Homo sapiens: one gene and its partner. The protein of the gene in region 1 purifies or fractionates together with the protein of each later gene. This does not show direct contact. Each region holds a gene or a part of one and is shown on either strand. Other genes may lie near its edges.

Region 1 (3,771 bases):
GCGTGTACATGCCACGCTCCGTCTGTTCACTCCGCTGCGTGTAGATACCACACTGTCTATTCACTGACACTTGGGTTGCTTCCACCTTTTGGCCTGGCCTTGTAAGCCCATCAGAGGCGATGCTGAGAGATTGTAGCCTTTTTGGGAAAGGAGGGCTTGAGGGCCAGGCAGAAGCTCCTTGGTGGTATTTGAGATGCTTCTAACAACAAAAACCAAACAGGGATGCTGTCTGTGTCGCCATTAGAATACTTCTCAAGATGATGCAATCTGGCCAGGTGTCGTTGCTCACACCTATAATCCTAGCACTTTGGGAGGCCGAGGCTGGAAGACAGCTTGAGCCCTGGAGTTCAAGATCAGCCTAGGTAACAAAGTGAGACCTCATCTCTAAAAACATTTAAAAAGTGAGCCAGGTGTGGTAGTGCGTCCCTGTAGTCTTAGCCACTTGGAAGTCTGAGGCAGGAGGATTCCCTGAGCCCAGGAGGTTAAGGCTGTAGTAAGCTGTGTTCGTGCCACTGTACTCCAGCCTGGAGGACAGAGCAAGACCCTGTCAAAAAGATGAAGCAGTATGACCCTCATATTCTGCCCTGCTTGGCACCTGGGCTGGGCAGGACACAGACCCAGAGGCCCCTGGCCTGCCCTGTGGACTTGGGGGTCTTCTCGTTTTCCTTGCAGGCTTGGAGTCCCGATTTCAGAGCAAGTCTGGCTATCTGAGATACAGCTGTGAGAGCCGGATCCGGAGTTACCTGAGGGAGGTGAGCCTGAGTGAAGACCGGGTATGCTGGGCGGGTTTTTGAAGCCAGGCTCTGTGGGCTCTGGAAGCCTGTGGTCCTCACGATGGGTAGTTGGTAGGACCACACTCCGTGCTTGCGTGGATCTGGTGGGGCTGCTCTGGTGAGGGAAGCTAGCGCACGGACCCTGTGCCTCCTCCCTTCATGGGGGTGAACACCCATCGGGCCTTTTCAGCTGCACTTGAGGTCACGGGTTGGGGAGCGGGGAGGTGGTGGCTCCTGCCTGCCTCCCCTCCTCTCCTCCTCTCCCCCCGAGGCTTCTTCCTGGGCAGCAGTGGCAAGCGTCACGGCAGACACAGAGCCTGAGCTGTCATTTGCCCAACTGTGACCAAGGTCAGCAGGTGCTACAGGGATCTGAGGCCCTTCCCATGAGCCCATCCTTGGTCTGCAAACCTCTCCACCGCTCCCTCCTCCCTCCCAAAGGTGGAGTCAGCTCTGCCCTCATTTCCATCCACCCCATCGAATGTGGATTTCCTCATCACATAGCATGACATGCCACGCTACACCATACCACACCATACCAGACCACACCACACCAGGCCACACCACACCAAGCCACACCACACCAGGCCACACCACACCACACCACGCCACACCACACCAGGCCACACCACACCAGGCCACACCACGTCATTCCACACCATGCCACACCGCATCATTAGCACATGGAGGGTGCTGTGGAGGCCCCTGCAATGGGTGTCCTGTCCTAGTGCTGCCCTGCGTGGTCGGCCCCCACGCCCTCGGCCCACTCCTCTCTGTGGCACAATTGCTAATGCTGCACTGCACCCCGTTTTTCTGCATCTCTTCGAGGTCCTGGCGACTTGCCATGTTCCCTTGCATTTCCCAGCCTGCTCCCTGTAGTGGAGCTAACTGATCCTGATACTCTTCCCTGCAAGTGCAATGACCAGGCCCTTCCACGCACCACTGCCTGCCTGACCAGGGTGGGATGGCCGTGCCTGCCTGACTTTATTAGCTCATCTTCTTTTTTGAGACGGAGTCTCACTCTGTTGCTCAGGCTGGAGTACAGTGGTGCAATCTCAGCTCACTGCAACCTCTGCCTTCCAGGTTCAAGTAATCCTCCTGCCTCAGCCTCCCAAGTAGCTGGGATTACAGGCATGTACCACCATGCCCAGCTAATTTTTTGTATTTCTAGTAGAAATGGGGTTTCACCATGTTGGTCAGGCTGGTCTCAAACTCCTGACCTCAAGTGATCCGCCCACCTCGGCCTCCCAGAGTGCTGGGATTACAGACGTGAGCCACCACACCCAGCCTGTTATCTCATCTAAGTCTCACCCAGCCTGGGGGCTGGTGTGGTTCCCTCCATTTCACAGGTCAGAGTCTCCCAGGGTGGGACAGCCCAGCAGTGGCCGAGAGGCCACGTGAACTCAGACCCTCTGACCACAGGACTGGGCTTGGGCAGGGTCTCAGAGGGCCATGGAGTGAGATGGATCGAGAGCCAGTGCGGGTTTTGGGGCGCTGTGCACCAGGCTCACCGACGTTCCTTGGTTCCTCCAGGTGAGCTCCTACCCCTCCACGGTGGGTGCGGAGGCTCAGGAGGAATTCCTGCGGGTCCTCGGCTCCATGTGCCAGAGGCTCCGGTCCATGCAGTACAATGGCAGCTACTTCGACAGAGGAGCCAAGGGCGGCAGCCGCCTCTGCACACCGGAAGGCTGGTTCTCCTGCCAGGTGAGCTGTGTGCCCTTTATCCTGGGGCCACCCGGCTGGCCTGTGGAACACAGCCCGCCTGGGGCGAGGCGGGTGGGGACCTTCAGCCCTTGCCCTGCCTGGGCAAAGCCTTGTGAAGAGGTACAGCCCTCACATTCCCAGGGAGGGCGGCAGTGTCTCAGCCAGTGCCTCTCAAGCTGCAGTGCACACAGGAATCCCTGGGGAGCTTGCAGAGGGCTGCAGGGCCCGCCCCAGGGCTTGTCTCGGTAGTGCTGGGCGGTGTCTTAGTCAGCCCCGGCTGCCATAACAGATGACCCCTGCTGGGGAGGCTGGAACGGCAGCTGGTTACTGCTCATAGTTCTGGAGGCTGGAAGCTGAGATCAGGTCCGCACTCCCCCGCTGCCTTCCCAGGTGTCCCTGCTGCACCGTGCTAGGCGTGGTCTGGCCTTTAGTGGTGATGCATCTGTGTCTCTGGCGAGTCCTGGGCACACCCCTCCCCCTCCCATGGTGTGGGGAGCAACTTGAGGCGCCTCTTGGCGTTTGCACACTGCAGTTGCATTCCCGGTAAGGTCCACTGATGCCCGTGATCTTCCGAGTGCCACTCAGTGGGTCCAGCAGCAGGGGCCAGGTGGTGGGCATGGCCTGCGGTGCTTCTTCCCATGGGACAGGGCTCCTTGCTGCTCCTGCCAGGCAGATCCTTCTGGGGTGATGGGCTCTGGCCATAAAAACGCTTCTTCCAAGTTAGCTTAACATTTAGACTTTGCAGTGCGCTCGCTCACCACTCAGTGAGTACTTACTTTGTGCCTGGCACTGTGGGAGGGGTTGGGACACAAAAATGAAAAATCCTTCATCCCTGATGGCAGGGTGAGTCCTGCACAATGGAAGGTGAAAGACACATAAATGAGCGAGACAGAGGAGGCCAAGGGGCTGCAGGAGCCGCAGCCAGCATCCTGGGAGCCAGGGCCAGTCAGAAGCGGCCCCAGGGAGGGGGTGGGGCCTTAGAGCAGGTTGACTGATAGGTGGGGGTGCAAGAGTGAGCTGGGAGGGACCAGGTGCTCCGGGCATGGCAGTGGGAAGCAGTGGGCTCTGCTGGGGAGGCTGTGAGTCCCCAGGGTGATGGGGGCACAGAGTGCAAGTAGGCACTGGGGCTCCCGGCACGTGCTCTGCAGATGTCTGTTCACGAATGAGTGTGTTGAGTGCTGGGCTGCGGACCACAGGGAAGACGGAAGCTGTGGCCATGGCACCTTCAGTGAGGCAGCCCTGCCTCTGCATTGGGATCACAGGGAAACATCAGGAAGCCGCGGGCAATGGCTGGAAA
Region 2 (3,771 bases), about 80 Mb from region 1:
TTATTCTATTAGTGATTATTAATGAACGGTAGAAGCTTATAAACTATTAAGTACAGGTAAAACCATCAGATTCTATAACCTATTTTAATAACTCTGAGATCTTATTAGTCATAACCTGATGAGGTACAAACTCCCGTTAAATTATGTGTATATTTTAAAAACTAAACTTAGCAAGAACTTTAAGGAGAATTAAATTTGTGAAAAACAAACTTTTATAATCTTATTACCATAATACTATTATTATTATTTCTCTATATATTTATTTTCCATCTTCATCCTTAAAACAATCCTCTGTCCTGGAGTTGTATTATTAATCTTTGTTTAATAAATATTGATATTTTAAAATTCAATTAATTTTTCCATTTTCTGAAAACTCTTCAAGTAGTGGACCCTCACAATATCTAGCAGTAGTATAACATTTAAATTGGCTTCAAAGTCCTTTTTTTATATTAAATTTTTATATTCTTTATATTAAAACTTGTGTATGATGTGGCCTCTTTGTTTCCACCTAATGCTTCATATGGCCAAAATATTAATCAAACAAAATAAGTTTTTGGCATTGGCATCAACTTAAAAATCTGGTTAAACAACACAAGCATATAAAGATTTGAAGAAAGCAAAACCATTAGTTACCTGAACCTTCCAATTCTTCTTAGATGTGAAAACATTTCACCCCCAGGGACATATTCCATAACCATGTATAAATTAGAATTATCCTATGAACAAATAAAAAGGAAATACAATTATTCAACTTAGGTCAAAATTATTTTAATATTATATAATGCTGAATTAGAAAAATTTAAAATCTCTCTGACAGATTAATAACCTTGAGAAATAAAGAATAAATGGAACATGCTCTAGCTTTTCTATACAGAGACACTCATATTTTTCCCCTCCTAGTTATTTTTGCCACAAACTAGTCTGGGACTTTTGCTCTTCCTTTTCTTGCAGAGAACATCTAGTTCTCAAACAATTAAATACTCAGGCAATGAAGTAACGTTATAATATATGCAAAAGAATAACAAAGGTAAAAAACAATTTAAAAAGTTAATAAGAATATTTACATTTTATGTATAAAAGATTAATGGTTTTAATATTTTAAATACATAGGTCTTCATTTAATTTAAAGAATAAAGGAGAAAAAAGATTAAAATGTTTCATATGATTCAATATTGCAGAGAGATGCCAGTATCATTCCAAAGAGCTCAAAAGTGACCAATTTAAATAATAAATGTGGTACAATTTTTCAGACATTTGAATAGTGGAACAAAAATTTTGCTTTGTATAAGTGAAAAGACTAGAACTCAAATTACTAAGTAAAAGAAGATGAGATAGTGGCAAAAAGGGCTTAATCAAAGTAGAAAATGTGTTGGGTGTATGAATTTGCATAAGAATTGTTATTAAGATATCCCTATGGTTTTTGATAAATTGAAATATTTCTTTTTGTAATACCATCTCATGAGTATCACCTTTGAACAATTTCCCCAGGGAGAATCAAAACCTTTTCAAACGTTACCTAAGTTATAAGCACAATAGGATTTAATTACACAAACTCTAGAGGTATTCGTTTTGTTTATTCATATTCTTCAGGCTTATCATCTGGTTTAGAATCCATTTATAGTTTCATCTTAAAAAAAATTTAGGTTGAAAATATCTTATTTAGATATTACTAAAATTTACCTTAAAAGCATACTCCAGTCGAACAAGGAAAGGAAAATTCACTGCCTGTAATATTCTTTTCTCATTCAAAGTATGCTCTATTTGCTTCAGTTTAACAACCTGTAATTGAGAGATAAATATCTCTTAATGTATTTAAGCAAAATTAAAAAGTTATCATTTAAAAAAATGTTTTCCATATAGTAATAAACTTGGATAAGCAAAATTGTTAGAATTGGATAAGGAAGATAATAACAATTACCAACTTTTAGGTTGGTGCATAAGTAATTGCGGTTTTTGCCATTACTTTTAATAATAGGATTCAAATGAAAACCTAATAGAGGATTTAAAACTTGGTCTTAGGAAGGTCAATTATGGTTTCAATTAAGAAGTGAGAGCTAAGTAGGAATAAGAAACAAACTCATAAGAAATTACTTTAAAAATTAGTTATGTCAATTATGCTTAAATAAATATATAATTACTTAAGGTAATTTAAAAATGAATGTGAAAATACTAAGGTCCTAATGACTTAAAGTCCTCTATAAAAGCTGGCTCAAATCTCTGCAATAAGTAGATAGTGATTTTAAATACTTCAGAAGATGAATAAGAAAATTAAAAATGAAGAGAAAGTCCATAACTGAAAAATAGTGAGTAAAAATGAACAATTTTCATTTTATAATATCTAAATAAATATAGGTATAAATTCTAAAAATTTATTTTATATTGCCATAGAAGAGGACACACAAAATATTGGGGAAAAAACTATCTTTATAACAAAAACTATCTTTGTATCCTAGGTCATTTAGACTTAAGCTTCCTCTAGATTTTCTATTTAATAGAAGGGGAAAGTAATTTATCTTGACTTCACGAAGACTGTGATTCTATTCCATATGTGATTCTATTTTGAATTTAAGAAGTGGTGACTTTAGCAAGACATATAAATAATTTTCTTGTATATGTGTAAATCATTAGAAGGTGGCATTCTTTCTTGCTGGAGTCTAATGGTCAATGTGAGGATAGTCACAGAAGTCAAGAAGTTAAATATAAATAACAAAAGTAATTAAAGATACCAGCCAGGTATTAATATATAAAATTAGGAGTATACTGATAATATTGAGCAAATAAATTGAGTAGGAGTCAGATTTGTGTTTTAATCTAGGCCTTTTATTTAACTAACTTTCTGACTTGAGATGATTTCAAATCTTTGGGCCTCAGGTTTTCAAAATTTGTAACATGAAGTGGTTGGATCACTACTGTACACATTTTAACTTCTGTAATAGTTACAAAACAAATTAGTCCATAATTGTCACAATAAATTATAGTTGTCCATCAGTATCCCTGGGGGTTGGTTCCAGGACCTACAGCAGAAACCAAAATGCCCAGGTGCTCAAGTCCCTTATATAAAATGACAGAGGCTTTGCATAAAGCCTATACACACTGTCCATATACTTTAAATCATCTCTAGATTACTTATAATACCTGATATATTGTAAATGCTATGTAAATAGTTGTTACACTGTATTGTTTAGGGAATAATAACAAGAAACAAAAGTCTGTACATGTTAGGTATAGATGTAATTTTTTTCCCAAATATCTTCAATCTGTGATTGGTTAAATCCATGGACGTGGAACCCATAGATATGGAAGGGCTGACTGTATACTAACTATGTATAATATAGTTACAATAAAAATTTAGTTACAATAAAAATTAAATTTAATAATAAAATTATTTGAAGCTGTCAATGGTAAGTCATTATACTGAATCTGTTTAATAGTCTAGCTGATAAAACTAAAGTTTACCCTGAAGGTAAATAACAACAAATACACTCACCTTCTGCTTATCTAAGATCTTCATGGCATAATACTGTTCAGTGGCTTTGTGTTTTACCAACATGACTCTTCCAAATGAACCTGTTCCAAGGGTTTTTTTCCTTTCAAAATCTTCAAGTCCGGCATTATTCTATATGTAAATACATAAATAAAATTTAAAATTCTCGTAAAAACACTATGGGAATTATAAATGCTTTAATAATACATAATCATAATGGATAATCCCATTTATAACTATCCATTTAAATGCAATACAAAAAAGCTATTGAGATTCCAGTTTATTGG

Evidence for each region. Proteins that work in one complex are often made in the same cells at the same time.
Region 2: the proteins of DFFB (region 1) and PRKACB purify together in Homo sapiens (affinity purification with mass spectrometry; 2 studies listed by BioGRID and IntAct, with this or other methods). This does not show direct contact.

The regions. Positions count from the first base shown.
Region 1 is NC_000001.11:3,867,302-3,871,072, forward strand, and holds part of DFFB (DNA fragmentation factor subunit beta), read left to right. Parts: intron 1-672; coding exon 673-752; intron 753-2,303; coding exon 2,304-2,474; intron 2,475-3,771. UniProt on the Homo sapiens protein: Nuclease that induces DNA fragmentation and chromatin condensation during apoptosis. Degrades naked DNA and induces apoptotic morphology.
Region 2 is NC_000001.11:84,182,045-84,185,815, reverse strand, and holds part of PRKACB (cAMP-dependent protein kinase catalytic subunit beta), read right to left. Parts: intron 3,617-3,771; coding exon 3,488-3,616; intron 1,780-3,487; coding exon 1,681-1,779; intron 717-1,680; coding exon 634-716; intron 1-633. UniProt on the Homo sapiens protein: Mediates cAMP-dependent signaling triggered by receptor binding to GPCRs.